Linked DNA regions of Homo sapiens: region 1 is linked to region 2. Evidence: fine-mapped expression QTL. Tissue or cell type: cerebellum. Region 2 holds a variant in brackets; the other region holds the start of a gene. All regions are shown on one strand. Distances are from middle to middle.

The links. PIP is the estimated chance that this variant, and not a neighbour inherited with it, causes the effect.
Region 1: it holds the start of VCAN, and the variant in region 2 is fine-mapped to the expression of VCAN in cerebellum (GTEx, PIP above 0.99).

What each region holds. Positions count from the first base shown.
Region 1 is chr5:83,467,086-83,475,085 of GRCh38, reverse strand. VCAN (versican) reads right to left here and starts at 3,342. Exons shown (of 15, transcript NM_004385.5): 1 at 3,063-3,342. RefSeq lists silencers at 269-488, 519-608 and an enhancer at 2,041-2,913.
Region 2 is chr5:82,620,522-82,628,786 of GRCh38, reverse strand. No RefSeq gene overlaps it. Among named protein-coding and RNA genes, the nearest start is that of MIR3977, 220 kb to the left of the region's middle. The variant T/G (reference allele first, on the strand shown) is at 4,019.

The sequences.
Region 1 (8,000 bases), 850 kb before region 2:
AACTCTTTATGACAGTCTGGAACGAAATTAATCTGTTAATTGACTAAGAATGGGCTTTAGAGTGACCTGAATGTATTTAAAAAGTCAACAAATGGAATACGGTATAAAGTCTCATTTTTCTGACAAAAAGTTTGCTTGGAGTAAATTTTAACCTCTCCCCTGCCTCAAAACAAAAGCACGATGCCCCTCCTACCACTCCCAAGAAGCAAGCAAAAATAAAATAAAATAAAATAAAACTTAAATAGCCTTTTAATAAGAGTGTTCAGCGCTGTCTGGATGGAACTCGGGTCAGCTCCAGAAGCAGCCGGCCCCGAATCCTGGGGGCGAGGCCACTCGGCTCTCTCGGTTAAGCTGGGCCCTGCCTTCCCCGCCCCGCCCCCATTGGCCTCGGTGGGTGGGGGCCTCGGCTGCGCCGGCCGCCTGTGCGGCTGTACTGCAGTCTCTGAGCCCAGGAAGTCACACCCGTCTCGGCTGGGAGCCGAAGCGCCAACCCACGTGGCGGCTGGCTAACCCAGCCGCTGCGGGGAGCGCCCGTTGCGGGTCCTCCCTTGGCGCGAGGTGAGCGAGTGGGGGCGGGCCCCAGACCCAGCCCCTTTGGGCGGGGCTGGACCACCTCCGCTTGTCTAGTTCTTTCCCACCCTTCCATCCCGGCACGCCTCTGCAGTCACATTTGTTGCCGCTGGGAAAGGGAAAAGAGTATCCTAAAACGAGTCTCGAAATTCAGACCCAAACCCCGAAACGAACCCTTCCGGTCCGTTCCTGGCTGTTTGAATGCCATCTGCCCCATCTCCGTTCCTTTCTCCTTTTCCTCCCCTCCACGGTCCTCTTTCCTTCCACTTCCCTTCCTTCCCTTTCTTTTTTCCTCCCACTGCCCGCCTTCTCTCCACTTTCCCGTCCGACGCCCGCCCTGAAGTTGAGGAAGTTTAAGTTTTGGATTAGGAGCCCTTCTTTTGCAATATCCTGGGGCGGGGCCCTAGCGTTGGGTTCAAGTGGTCATGGGTTTTGAGAGCACGGTATGTGTATTATCTTTCTTAAAGACGCCCAGGGTGGCGCGTCTAGACCTCCGAAACCTGGCTCCACCCTGGCCATGTGCGTTCGTCCACTAAGCGGCGAACTGGACCCAGGGCGCCGCGTGCGTTCCAGCCGACTCGCGAGAAGGCATCTCTGCACTTTGCACAGACCAAGACCTTTTTTCAGGGTCCTCCAAACTCCTAGATGTACGCCGCAGATTGTGGAGTGCAAAATGAATGACTTAAGGGAAAACTAGGGCCTTCCATCCTTGAACACAAGGTTGTGAAAGATGCTCGCTTGGTCTGGGGGGCTTGTTTTTCTCCGCCTGTGCGGGACTTCTCCATCAGGGGGCGCCCACACCCGCCGCAAAACTCCCAATTCCTAGACATCTAGGTTCTGCAAGTCTTGTGAGCTGAACTGGGGGCAGATCCGAAGGAGCGCACCGCCTCCCTCGCTCCTCCCTCCCTGCTGCCTTGGAGCACGGGAAAGGCAGGGATTTCACACTAGCCATTCATTTGTCAGCTGTGGGGGAGGGGACGCAGAAGCTAGAGAGAGAGAACAGAGGCTGGGAGAGGGGAAGGGAGGCAGAGAAGATGGAGACAGAGGGAGACACAAAGATGAGGAACGCGACCCAGAGAGACTCTGCCGCGGGTGTGCGCGCGGCAGGACAACTCTCCAGGCGCCGTGTAGATTTCTCCCCCTTCCCGCAGCATCTCCCAGGGACATGCAGGACTTGCCGAGACGCAGTTGGATTGGAGAGCAAATAGTTTAGGCTATGACACTATTTTTCTACCCCGCTCTCCTCTGCCTAACACCCAGACCGCTCCACGCCCAGTGACACAGACCGCGGGCCAGAACAACCCGGATGCCCTAGGTCTGCACGCACCAGGGATGTCGCCCTACAGCGCCCACGCCTCTGCAGGACGGTGGGGCGCTCCAGCCGAGGACGTCCCCCGGGGCTCCCGGCACACGCGCGCGCCGCTGCCGCTAGACCTGCCAGTAAAGTTGCTCAACTAGAGCGGAGAACTAGGAGAGGGTGGGGAATATGTAAGGAAACGGAGGACTCCTGTAGTCTGGGCGAGAGGACTGACCCAGAGGCCCCTGATTCGGGTCCCCGAGCCACCTTTGTCTGCAGTGCGCTCTGGGTGCCGGTTTGCTTGTTGAGATGGGAGCGACAGACCCTATTTCACTCTTCAGGGTGAGAAAAATTGTTGCACATCCCTGCCGATTCAGAACAGGCTTTTCCCGCCCAGGGGCCTCCCAGACCTCCGCGGGGCTCCAACAACCCCACCCCCCATCCTCTGCTCCTTCCCTGCTGGCCCCTTCGCACCGCGTGCAGGACAAAAGAACCCAGGGGCGCCGGGAGAGAACCGTGACAGTCCCCAAGTCGTCAAAGAGACACGGCGGGGATCCTGCACCTCCCCCGGCCGGACCTCCTCCCAGACTGCCTGCGGTCTGAAGGGGTCAGGTCCGCGCAAGGTCCCAGGCTGCTTGGGCGCCGGGTCGCACTGTCAGGAGCTGCCCGGGAGTGGCTTTCCAGGAACACCAGGCACTGACCACACACCAGGGGCTGGGAAACCAGGTGGCCTGCACCAAGGCGGCTTCGGGGACTTGTCTGTGGCAAGTCTTGGTAGTCCCCATTCAAACTTTTGCCTCGAGCGTGTTAAGAACAACAACAACAAAAAAATCAAAGTGCCAAAGGTCCCTCTCTTCTCTCCAGCTCAAGAACCCACCACTTTTCTATGATTTCTTTACAATTTATTCCCTCCCTTCCCCCAATTCCGTTAGTCATTTTACCCCCCACCCCACCCTGGGTTTCTTTTGTCTGAATCTTTTTCAACACCAAGGTCCCTCTGTATGCCTCTCCCCAAAAGCCCTTATGAAAGTTACCTGCATTTTTTAAGTGCCTACATTTTCTTAACTTCGCCTTACAGCTCTTTGCCTTAATTAAAGCCTTCTACCAATTGCTTCTTTTTTCTAAGCTCGCGGGTTTTTTTCTATAAGTTTTTTGTTTTTGTTTTTTAAGGGGGGAACAAAAGAAACGTGATTACCTTGGAAGGCGGCTTATTGCAGTTTGGGGGGAAAATTCACTGCAGCGCTGCGCGACTGGGTTCGGCGTTGCCCAGGCGGGTCACATAGGAAGCGTGGTGGCCCGGGGAAGGATGCGGAGGGTGCGGGACGGTGCTGGAAGATGCGGGAGGATGCGGGGCTGGCCGAAGATCTTGGTCCCAGCTCCTGTCCACAACACCTAATGTTCTCGGCTGTTGCGTCCGCACGCCTGGAGTTCTTCCCCAGAAAGGCTCGGGGCAGCTCGCCTGCAAGTTCAAATGCGGGTTGTGACACCCATCATCATTATATCACTGTACCGTCAGAGCCGAGGAGGAGACTCAGCGAGAAGAAGGAGGAGGGAGAGGAGGAGGGTTCATTCACAGGCTCCAAAAGCGCTCCGCAGCTTCAGCCACTCCTAAGAGTCCAGGCTTGGAAAGCAGGCGGAGGGGCGGAAAGGCAGCTCCCCGCGCCTGCGGTAGGGACCGCCTGCCTCCCTCCCCAGGCACTCCCACCTCTTGGCGTTTCTTCCTGACAAGAAGTACCAATCGGCTTGGGGACAGCAGCGCTCCCCATTCAGGGACTCACTCAGTAACATCGCTCTGCTCGCGGAAACCACTGCCCTCCCACTCCTTCCCCACCCCCATTTCCCCGCCCCCCGTGCAGCTAGTTCTGGGTTAGGGGAAAGGAGCCCCCAGGCTCTTAGGGGGCAGGCCAGCAATAGACAATTGAGTACGATCACTTCTTCTCGGGAGCACACAAAACTGTAAAATCAGCAAAGAACTTGGTTACAGCGTGTTTACGCGCCCACAGAGCTTGCCTGTCCCATCAAAGGGAAGTGTCAGGCTCAAGGCTCCTGCCAACCTGAAAGAGACACTGAGAAAACGAGATCCTTCGGGGACCTAGAGGGAAAGTGTAAGAATTCCCCACTGCACTCCCAGGGAACTGCCCAATGGGGAGCCCGGCTTCAAAAGACCCTGGTAATAAAAGGCTGGACAGGAAATTCCCCCAGGCAAATCCCTTGTCGGATTCAAAGAGAATACTTTTCCTCTGCCACAAATCTCTCCCCACATAAGTCTAGATTCTGCTTTCTTCGTTCTTCCTTTCCTTCAGTCTTTCCAAGTATCTCTGAGTAGAATATTTGATAATTTTCCTGAGTAACAGGGACTTCTTGGAAGTATCAATCACCTTTCATGCTTTCCGGAAATAAGACCATAATCTTTCATGCGTATATGCGATTTTTTTTCTTCAGTCAGGCCCACCCCACTGTGTAAACAGCATCAACACATGGAAGAGTCCCCTGCATTGTGTTACAAAAGATTTCCAATAGGACCTTACAGAGAAAAGGGTCAAACAGTTGACACAAAGGATTTCTGTCCCCTTAGAAAAGAGGGACTTTGGATTTTCCTTTTCTTTGAAGTCAAGTATGAGTTTATACAATAGGAACAAAATAAATCCAAGGTGCACATCAGTATAACACTAGGGATACTAGAATGGATGGCAAACTTTTCCTTCTACACAAATATGAAAGTATCCTCACAACTCTTCTCTCTGAAGCCTCTACTTAGAAAATTATATTAAACATAGGACCTCAAAACAGTAGTGATTAAAGATGAAAGCCAATTTTTCCTCTCAACTTCTTTGATTAGTTTGGTTTAAACTTATGCTTTAAAACTTTTAGTAACTTAGACTCCTGTACATGCGCATTTATAAGATTTCTTTTATATTTTGTAATTTGTAGGCATTCAGCATGGTCATTGATTTTAAGTGATAAACAGGTAGAAGACTTGTCAGGATAATTTCAGTTCTCACCATGTGCATCTTTCATTTCTTTTGTTATTTATCAGCCCTCTGCAGTAATATAACTGTCAGTTACATCATTTGGAAATCAATGTGTTTTTGCAGTGAATTATTTATTCTTAGTAAATTTATTGTACTACCATTCCAAACACTGAAATTTGATTTCATCAGATGTTTAGAATGATAGTCACAGAGCAGAATCAGACTTCAACCTTCATGTATAACATGTAAACAAACTAAGGTGCAGAAAGTTACTGTCCCAAAGTCACACAATTAATAGTCCAGTGGTCTTTTCAGTGCTAATCATAGCAACTTTAGATTCAAGATTGCTTGATTCAGGAATGGAGAGAAATAAAATAAAATGAATGTTCATTGAAATATATACTCCAGACATTAAGATAGACCTTTCTGTGAAACACTTCAAGATGTGGATTTGTATTCTCATTCTTAAATTTGAGTAAATCTAGTTGAGTTTCAAAGAGTTCAAGTAACCTGCCCAAGGCCATTTTGTAAGTGACAGATCTGCCAGTCTGAAAAGCTTATTATCTTTTACCCTTTTGTCCCTTTATGATACAGTTAAGTAAAACCTTTCAACAAAGGAGAACTAGATCAGAAACAAGCAACTAATAGCAGATTAATGCCCATTTTTAGGGAAATGTTAATAGTTAACATTCACTATAAATAATGCCATCTGTATATAATGGAACATGATTGAAAGTGATGGGTTAGATACTTTTTACATTCTGAGATGTTTTCATTTATGTTGCCAAATTTGATTCTCTAATCCTCCAAAATTTTTAGTTTCTTTTAATGCCAATAGACTTCACAACACTTGACCAAATACTTCTACAGGACAAAGGCACTTTCTCAGGGCTGACTTAAGGAATTAGAATATGCACAATGTTGAAAAGCTTTAAACTGCCTGTCTTTTCTCTTCTTTGACTTGTAACATTATTATTCAGAAAATTAAATACTTCTTCAGGCTATCAGATAACTAAAATGAAATTATACCCCATGGATATCTTCTTTCTATCTCTAGGGCAGACTTTCCCCTCTAGCTGTCTAAAATGGAGAATGGATAAAAAAGAAAAAGGAAAACATACCAGCTATATTTAGAATAGAGTCTACAGTTGTATTATTATTTCTATGTAACTGTTTTTAATGACTTTCCTTCATCAAGAGAAAGAAAATGAGAGAGCATTTATTTCTGATTCTCCAATGCCTGACAAAACTATCAGAAGTTTTTGAATGGGAAAATATATATTTTTCAGGTTTTATAACTAAAATTGTATTTATTTGTCCATTACACTCAAGTATGAATCAAACAGTAATTAAAATATTATTCTGTGAGTCCCCCTTTAAATCACATCCTTGTACTGGGGATATTCTTTGTGAAAACTCCAAGATCCCAGGTATAAATAAAGCAAGATCTTCATTCACAATGCTTGTGTCTAAAAGAAACCATAAGCCAGAAGCTATGTGCCTTGCTTCCTTGCTTTGATCTTGTCTTTGGGAATTTGGCTGAGCTCAGGGGCAGCAAGCCAATGACTTGGAGAGGAAAGGTGTAGATGGCAGATGTGTCTCCAGGGAATTTTATTATCTTCATCTAAACCTCCTTCTGAGGTTCTTTAGGATTACATTTCAGACTTCTCCTTTTTTATTGATCAGGTGAAGTGTTCTTAGACATGGCATCATCTATTGCTGCTCTAGGGATGACAAGATTCCAGTCCCATTCAAATTCAGAAAGAGCTTAGTTTCAACTCCTTGATCTGACTGGTCCTAGGCACAACTAAGCAAATTATCCTCACTGGATGATACAGTAATGCTACAGATTAAAAATGTACTTTTAACTTTCAAAGACCCTGGAAAAAGGAAGCCTATCCTCTAAGATTGTGTCATAATTTTTTTTTTAAATAAAACACTGCAAATTAGGGACAGACATTTCATCCAGCACTTTGAATTCTCTTTGGCTTTCTAGGAAAGGCAGAAATACAAGGTCTTTATTGCCTTCTTTTTATTCTTAAAAAAGAAATCTTGCAAAAGGCAAAGTGATGGTGGCAATCTCATTGTGCTTTAACCCGAAGTATATAAATTGCTCTGATAAATTAAACACAGACAAATTTCCTTAGAAAGCCATAAAACATTAGATTTTTCCCAGACATCAGATATTGAGTTTTTGCTCTCCAACCCCCAAATCAAAATGTTACAGTAAAATATTTGTTTTAATAAATTTTTTTTTCTCCTGTGCTGTAAATGTCCTGTTCATGGTTGAGCAGATTTCTCTAGAACTTAACTGAAAGACCATCTACATCACGACAGAACTATGCAAGCCAAAGCCAAGTTCCAACATGGAGTGATGGGAGAGGCCGGGCTGCCGAGAGGAGATGACTTCATTAGTGAGAAGAGAGGCTCTCTGAGCCGGTCCTCAAGGCAGCCAAATGGCTCAGCACATCTGCACTCACCCTGGGAGGCTGCCTGGAGCAGAGCATCAAAAACGCTATCTTTTTTATAAAGAAAAAGATGAAGGCATAAAGAACACAGTCCAACTAAATTGAATCAAAGATTGTATCACTCTTACTCCCTCCTTAGTCACTTTCTCAAAGTCTTTTTCTTCTCTCCCCACAGTCTGAAAAATATAGGTCATTTTTATAAAGCATTTGTCTGACTGAAGCAAGACAAACTGAAGAGTCTGGTTTCTGAACACAAGGAAGCGGTAGAGATCTTAGAATCAATGAGGCAGGGCGGAATACAATGCAGAAGGTTTCTTAAGAGGCAAAACTTTTGCAGTTGCTGTTTATTTTCAGTGACTACCCGTTTCCATTTATTTAATTAGACTACAGTGGGACCGAGACAAGGAGCATAATGAAAGCTGCTGCACTGATGGTGCAAAAAGACACATGGCATCATTAATGTCTCTGTGGTGAGCAAAGGTAGAACGCAAGACAGAAAACAAGGAAACCTCTGTGTTGTAAGAAAAGTGTTCAGCATGGGTATCAACCGGCATGTAGAAGCAGCAAGCATACATTCCATTTTTATTCTATTGACAAAAAGAATTGCAGGACTAATGCTTGCTCCTATTAAAATATGAGAAATCACATTTTAATCCTACAAATCAAAGGTCAAATATTTGTTGCAATAATTCC
Region 2 (8,265 bases):
AGGAATATGTGACCCAAAACCTGTGTTTTTTCTGTAGCCTCTGCCTACCATCCTCATGTTTTCCAGTTACAGGAATCAGAAACTGTGAGCTACCACCTTAAGAGTGACTCACAAGTCTAGTCCCCTACTCTTATCTTGGAAATTTATGTTATTAAAATAAAATACAGCCAAGAAAAATAAGGCTGTTTTTTTTTGAATCATTAAGGAAAGAAACAAAAACCTTTATAAAATTGACCAGAACATGCTAATTAATTCTCCTCTCCCAGTACTTATCACTCTGTATTATCATTTTCTGCATAACATATCCTTCTTTCCCACTAGAAACTGAGTTTCTCTGGTTCAGGATATAGATCTTATTTATCTCTGTGTCTAGCCACCACCACCATAATCACATTGACAAGTGACCCGTGGTGGATGCCAATAGCTTACAAGAAATGTCTTTACAAACGTCACTATCTGTATTTACTAAGAAATATGATAGAGGACACTGTTTATCATATTCCTCAGTATTTCTTATATGACACCCTGTAAGATAAATTTCTTTCAAACTGAAGTGCCAGAAATTTTTTTCTGTGCTTCAGAAATTAGTATGCTTTCTCCTTATGGGCAATATGAATTATATACATGAAACAGAATTTCTTATTATCGCTTTGGTTTCCAGGAAGTCAGGAACCAAATTTGTGGCTCAACTTTATATTTCTGCATATCCTGAAAATTTCTGCTCCAAATGTCCATTGATCTTAGCCTTATATTCTAATTTTTATTTTCTTATATTTATTTTCATTTAAATGTATGTAATCTTGTAGGTTATCTCAAATATTTTGTGAAACAAAGTAAATTATAAATAAATCAACCATGCTTAGCTGTATTAATTAATAACACATTAGCTTCTCTAACAGATAACTCCTTGTATTAGTCCCTTTTCATGCTGCTGATAAAGACATATCTGAGACTGGGCAATTTACAAAAGAAAGAGGTTCAATGGACTTACAGTTCAATGTGGCTAGGAAGGCCTCACAATCATTGTGGAAGGCAAAAGGCACTTCTTACGTGGCGGTGGCAAGAGAGTGAATGAGAATCAAGTGAAAAGAGTTTCCCCTTATAACACCATCAGATCTCATAAGACTTATTCACTACTATGAGAATAGTATAGGAGAAAGTGCCCCCATGATTCAATTATCTCCCATTGGGTCCCTCCCATAACACTTGGAAATTATGGGAGCTACAATTCAAGATGAGATTTGGGTGGGGATGCAGCCAAACCATATCATTCTGCCCCTGGCCCCTCCGAAATCTCATGTCCTCACATTTCAAAACCAATCATGCCTTCCTAACAGTTCCCCAAAATCTTAACTAATTTCAGCATTAACTCAAAAGTCCACAGTCCAAAGTCTTATCTGAAAAAAGGCAAGTCCCTTCTGCCTATAAGCCTGTAAAATCAAAAGCAAGTTAGTTACCTCCTAGATACAATGGGGGTACAAGCATTAGGTAAATACAGCCATTCCAAATGGGAGAAATTGGCCAAAACAAAGAGGCTACAGGCCGCATGCACATCTGAAACCCAATGGGGCAGTCAAATCTTAAAGTTCCAAAATGATTTCCTTTGACTCCACGTTTCACATCTGAGTCACATATTGCAAGAGGTGGTTTCGCATGGTCTTGGGCAGCTCCACTCCTGTGGCTTTGCAGGGTACAACCTCATTCCTGGCTGCTTTCACAGGCTGGGGTTGAGTGTCTGTGGCTTTTCCAGGTGCACAGTGCAACCTGTTGGTGGAACTACCATTGTGGGGTCTGAAGGATGGTAGCCCTCTCCTCACAGCTCCACTAGGCAGTGCTCCAGTTGTGACTCTGTGTGTGGGCTCCAGCCCCACATTTCCCTTCTGCACTGCCCTAGCCAAGGTTCTCCATGATGGCCCCACCCCTGCAGCAAACTTCTGCTTGGGCATCCAGGCATTTCAATACATCCTCTGAAATCTTGATGGAGGTTCCCAAACCCCAATTCTTGACTTCTGTGCACTCGCAGGCTCAACACCATGTGGAAGCTACCAAGGCTTGGGGCTTACACCCTCTGAAGCTACAGCCTGAGCTCTACATTGACCCATTTTGGCCATGGCTGGAGCAGCTGGGACACAGAGAACCAAGTCCCTAGGCTGCACACAGCACAGGGATTCTAGGCCCAGACCACAAAACCATTTTATGCTCTTAGGCCTCCAGGGCTGTGATGGGAAGGGCTGCATGAAGAACCCTCTGACATGCCCTGGAGACATTTTCCCCATTGTCTTGGGGATTAACACTGGGCTCCTCATTACTTCTGCAAATATCTGCAGCCACTTTGAATTTCTCCTAAGAAGATGGGATTTTCTTTTTTATCACATTGTCAGCCTGCAAATTTTCCAAACTTTTATGCTGTCCTTCCCTTATGAAACTGAATGCCTTTAACAGCACCGAAGTCATGTCTTGAATGCTTTGCTGCTTAGAATTTTTTTTCTGCCAGATAACCTAAATCATCTCTCTCAAGTTCAAAGTTCCACAAATCTCTAGGGCAGGGGCAAAATGCTGCCAGTCTCTTTGATAAGACATAACAAGAGTCACCTTTGCTCCAGTTCCCAACAAGTTCCTCATATCCATCTGAGACCATCTGAGCCTGGATTTCATTGTCCATATCTTTATCAGCATTTTGGTCAAAGCCATTCAATAAGTCTCTAGAGAGTTCCAAATTTTCCCACATTTTCCTGTCATCTTCTGAGCCCTACAAATTGTTCCAACCTCTGTCTGTTACCCAGTTCCAAAGTCGCTTCCACATTTTTGGGTATCTTTTTAGCAGCACCCCACTCTACTGGTACCAATTTACTGTATAGTCCATTTTCATGTTGCTGATAAAGACATACCCGAGACTGGGAAGATAAAGACGTTTAATGGACTTACAGTTCCATGTGGCTGGGGAGGCCTCACAATCATGGCAGAAGGCAAGGAGGAGCAAGTCCCTTATATGGATGGTGTCAGGCAAAGAGAGAGGGCTTGTGCAGGGGAACTCCTATTTATAAAACCATCGGATCTTATGAGACTTACCCACTATCACAAGTAGCATAATAAAGACATGCCCCCATGATTAAATTACCTCCCACTGGGTCCCTCCCATGACATGTGGGAATTGTTGGAGTTACAATTCAAGATGAGATTTGGGTGGGGACACAGCCAAACCATATCACCCCTCAAATCTTAACACAATAGAGTTATATTTCTCACACATTAATTTCCTTGGCTAGTAGCCTTTCACATGATTATGTAGGGACCCAGGGTTCTTCTTCCAGGGTCTTGGAGACAGTCACATTCCACTGGTATATGGAGACAAGACTACAGAAAGATATCTCTTCATGTTTCACTGTGAAGAAACTAGACACTAGGCTCCACCTATGCCTGATATTCAGGGAAATCTAGATCCTAGGTGGACAGCAGCCTCCTAGCACCCAGCTTTACTCTATGGAAGGGGAACACAAATCTTTGTTGATGACCTAATTAGCCCTGTTACCTACTTGAAAGATATTCCAAAATATTGTTGCATGATTTAAAGGGATGCTCATACAGCCACAACCTCCTTATGTGGCAACAGAGTCATTTTGTATATAACCTGCCCATGGACCTTGCATTAATATTATTTAATCAATATGTATAATGCTTACATGGCAGTACCTATGAGTTGATTTTCCTGCATAAAACATATTCAAGTTAAGTGTCTTGTATGACCTCAAACTGCCAATTGAAGTTTCTTGGTCATGGTGTATAAGCCAACAGAAGGTGTTTGTTAATGACTGGCCTCCAGTTGCTTAATTCAGAACTGTGGCCAGTAGGCTGAGCAGATGGCTGAAGAGGTTTGGGCTACATGGGCCATGAACACAGTTGTCAGTGTGGTAGCAGGAGCTCTACAGAAAGTATCTTGATTCCTTCTAATTCTGCAAAAAACAATGAGGCAGAGGGCCCGAGGCTGATCGCCAGATTTAGGCCAAGGAACGTCAAATTA[T/G]GACATGAGGAGGACCAAGAGTCCTTGAGTTTTAGTCTCCAGGGCTGCAATGACTTAACAGCAAAGTTAATTCCCCAAAATGTCAGAACTGTATATTTCTGGTCAGATGCCAAATATACACAGCTATAGGCTTGCTTAACTGCACCATCGGGATCTACAGTATTCCCTAATGTCTCTTCAAACACAGCCCTCTCCTTACATTAGGTCTTACTTCTTAAAAATTATGCTGGTTTACAGGAAAAGACTACCAAAAGGAGCCCATTCTACTTCGGTTCCTTCAATATTCCCTTAGAATATTATCTTGCCCAAACACACAGGAAGTAGAAGAATGGCCATACATCCCAGTTTCCTCACAACAGTCCTGGTTAATGCCTGTGGACCAGTATAAGTGTTAATAATACTCCCTTTCAATCTCAATGTATCTTGCTTTGCTCAGGAAACTATTATCAGTTGTGAATCCATGACTAGAACTTAGTTTGTCTGACTCATGGCATAGTGCTCTTTCCACAATATAAAGTTATTTCTAATTATAACCAAACATCAGCATTAAGGGAAGTAGGTGTGCGGTGGGCACAACACTTCCTCCCTCCTTCTAGGTTACTAGACATTTATAGAAGTGAATTAGTCAGAGTAGAATGGAGACATGATTCTGCCTTTCCAAGAATTGGGATAAAGTAAGCAAATCTGGAAGGCTGTCCCTTCTTTAACCTCAGGGTAAGCTCCAACATTCATCCTAAGTTTGAAAATTATGTCAATTCAATTCACAACTAAATTGAAAGAAAATCCAGAGGTTTTCCCCAAACTCATGAATCCACTGCTGCTATTCAACCTAGGCCATTTTCTGCAGAGCTACATAACTGCTAGCCTCACACCATTTCTATCATCTATCAAGAAGGTCCATTTGCCAGGCATGGTGGCTCACACCTCTAACCCCAGCACTTTGGGAGGCTGAGGCGGGCGGATCATGAAGTCAGGAGTTCGAGACCAGCCTGACCAACATGGTGACACCTCATCTCTACTAAAAATACAAAAATTAGCCGGGCATGGTGGTGTGCGCCTGTAATCCCACCTACTCAGGAGGCTGAGGCAGGAAAATCACTTGAACCTGGGAGGTGGAGGTTGCAGTGAGCTGAGATTGTGTCACTGCACTCCAGCCTGGGCAACAGAGAGAGATTCCATCTCAAAAAAAAAAAAAAACAAAAAAACAAGGTCCATTAGTGACACAGTTTCCTTAGTGTTCCCCCCTTAACATTTTATAAAGCCAAAGCATGGCATATATTTTCCCTAAACAGTTTGTCACAGCAGATAATTTAATGTCAATTATTAACCAGGTTGTTTGGTGCCATATGCAAGAAGGAACTCAGCTAACGATCTGAGAGCAAAGATCACAACCAGACTATAGTGATCCAGAAGCTGAACCCAGGCAGGAACAGGGCAAATAAAAGAAATGTGCTCTACCTATTAACATGTTTTCCTGTTATTTCTTTATACTTGTCGCTGCTTAAATGTCGCAGTGCTCAATTCCGATGTCCACCTGTGTACCTGTCAGGAGAAAGTGGCTCCCCAAGAAGCAGAGAGGGAGACCATCTTAAACAAGTGGCAATAAAACGCCACTTCACTCTTCCTAGCCAGGATAGGCCTCTGTCTGAAGGAAATAGCAGCTTGTGGGCCTTTTATGAAAAGTACTTTTGTTCCAGTAGTTTTTCAAGGACAAAAATGTATCTTCACACTTTTGTCATTATATTTATGAACTGTAAATCCTCATTTTATGGAAACACTCCAGGATTTCAAACTCCTAAATCAACCTGGTAAATCTCCAGCCTCAGGGGTTCAATTTAAGGAGAACCTCTTCAAAAATACTGACATTTTATAGGGAACTGCAGGAAAAACAAACAATAAGAGTTTTCAACATACATCTTTTTTTTGGTAACCCTAAAGGCTTGTCATGGGAGACAGCTAACATGTAAGAAGAATAAAGACAGCTGCTGAGAATGCATTTTCTGAGCCGCAGGTCAACATGACTTAAACAATAACAGTGAGATGGTCTCTCCAGAAATTTGGTCTGGGGCCCTGAACAAGCCACCATTGTTTCCTTAAAGGAATATTTACTTTTATATCAGGATATGGATGATGTTAGATATACAAGCAAACTTTTAAGTGTGAGAAAAATGACTCTAGAAAATCTATTTGCAATTGCAAAACACTTTATAAATATTGTAGGCTTGAGGTTTTGCCTTCACTCTTATAATATTCCCCGTTATTGGCTGGACACAGTCCTGCCATAGCGGTTGGTATCTCCATGAACTGTCTGCCAACTTCTACTACTGAGAGCATTTCAATACACCCAGTCTCACCAATGTTTAGCCAGCTGGTAGCCCACATCAGCCATCCAAATATTTCATTGTTGGATGAAATAATTCCACAGGCAACCACAGGTCCTAGGCATGTGAATTTTATGAGGGCTTATTCCACAAACTAGGGCAAAACAGAACACAGAGCAGTTTGCCCCGAGATGCTGAGTGAGACTCACTGTCAATAATTTCTACCCATTCGCAGAAAATATTTTTAAAAATTATGGTCTTCATGAAATTTTGAATTGTAGAAGTGTGAAGAAATGCTTAGGGTCCTGAAAGGCAATATAAACTGTGTGTTTTCTCTGTTAATGGGAAGTTGGTGAAGTGCTTAACACAAGCGGCGGAAAGTCTTCTAATCCTCTTAATAGAAGGGACACAGAAGCCATATAGTGAAAAATGTATTCTTTTTCTCTCCAATGTATAATGGTGGCTGTGCCAAGCAATAATGTTCTATTTCTGAAAGTCTATAGCAAGCTTATTTAATGGCATTCTTAGCAGGGCGCCCTATTCATACCTATGTGCCATTTTCTGTGCTCTTGAATGAAAGACTTCCCTTTCATATGCCACTGTGGAAACACATCATTTCCCGCAGCTTGCACTTCTCCAGGTTGTCATAACTGCTTTTGAGAACGTCTTCAACAGCAACTAGTGACCCAGCACTGGAAAAAAAAATTCCAGGGCTGTTCTTAGGTCTACTTAGTGAGAGAGTTTTAATGTGTTCAATGGTGTCACCAACACATCGAGTCACCCACTTTTCTCAATCTTTTTGGAAAGGGAATAAAGAAGGTTATAGGGAAACTGTGCTCAGACTCAGCAAATTCAGAATCAGAAATTGCACAGACAACATAGAATGAAATATAGTACTGGTGTCAGTTAGAAAGGAAGCATTCATAGCAAGATTTCTCAATAAAATTGGATTTGGAGAATCAGTGAGGTGTGGCTACATAGAGAAACTCAAGCCAAAATTGTGCTATTAGAAACTTTGTTTATCTTTGCCTCTACTGACTTGTGAAATGGGGGGGCACCCCCAGCAAGGTTAACCATGACCCATGACCACCCAGGGTGATGCCTTAGATTTGTGATGTTATATCAATGTGGATTTATACTGTTCTCTGACCTTTTTAGAGACAAAAAGCAACACTTTTTGACTCTAAAAAAGTGTGTTGTTCGTGCTGATCTTGAGCTCCTGGCCTCAAGAGATCTTCCTGTGTCAGCATCTTGAGTAGCTGAGATTCAAGCACAAACCACAAACCACTGCAACCCTGCTCGTTGAGTTTTATGAGTTCTTTGTGTATTTGGATAACAGTCCTTTGTAAGATGTGTCTTTTATAAATATTTTTCTCCCAGTCTGTGGCTTGTCTTCTCAGCCACTTGACATCGTCTTTCACAGATAAACTTTTAATTTTAATGAAGTCTACCTTATTAATTATTTCTTTCATCAATCATGCCTTTGATGTTGTATATAAAATGTCATTGCCATACTCAAGGTCATCTAGGTTTTTTCCTATGCTGTCCTCTAGGAATTTTCATCTTGCATTTTACATTTAGGTCTATGAAACATTTCGAGTTACTTTTTGTGAAAGGCATCAGCTGTGTATAGATTTTTTTTGTATGTAGATGTCCAGTTGTTCCAGCGCCCATTTGTTGAAAAAAATTGTCTTCGTTCCATTGTTTTGCCTTTGCTCCTTTGTCAAAGATTAGTTAACTGTGTTTAAAAGGGACTGTTTCTGGGCCCTTTATTCTGTTCCATTAGTTTCTTTGTCTATTCTTTGGTGGATACCATACCATCTTGATTATCATAGCTTTATAGTAAGTCTTGAAGTCAGTCAGTGTCAGTCCGCTAATTTTGTTCTTCTTCCATCTTGAGTTAACTATTGTGAATCTGTTGCCTGT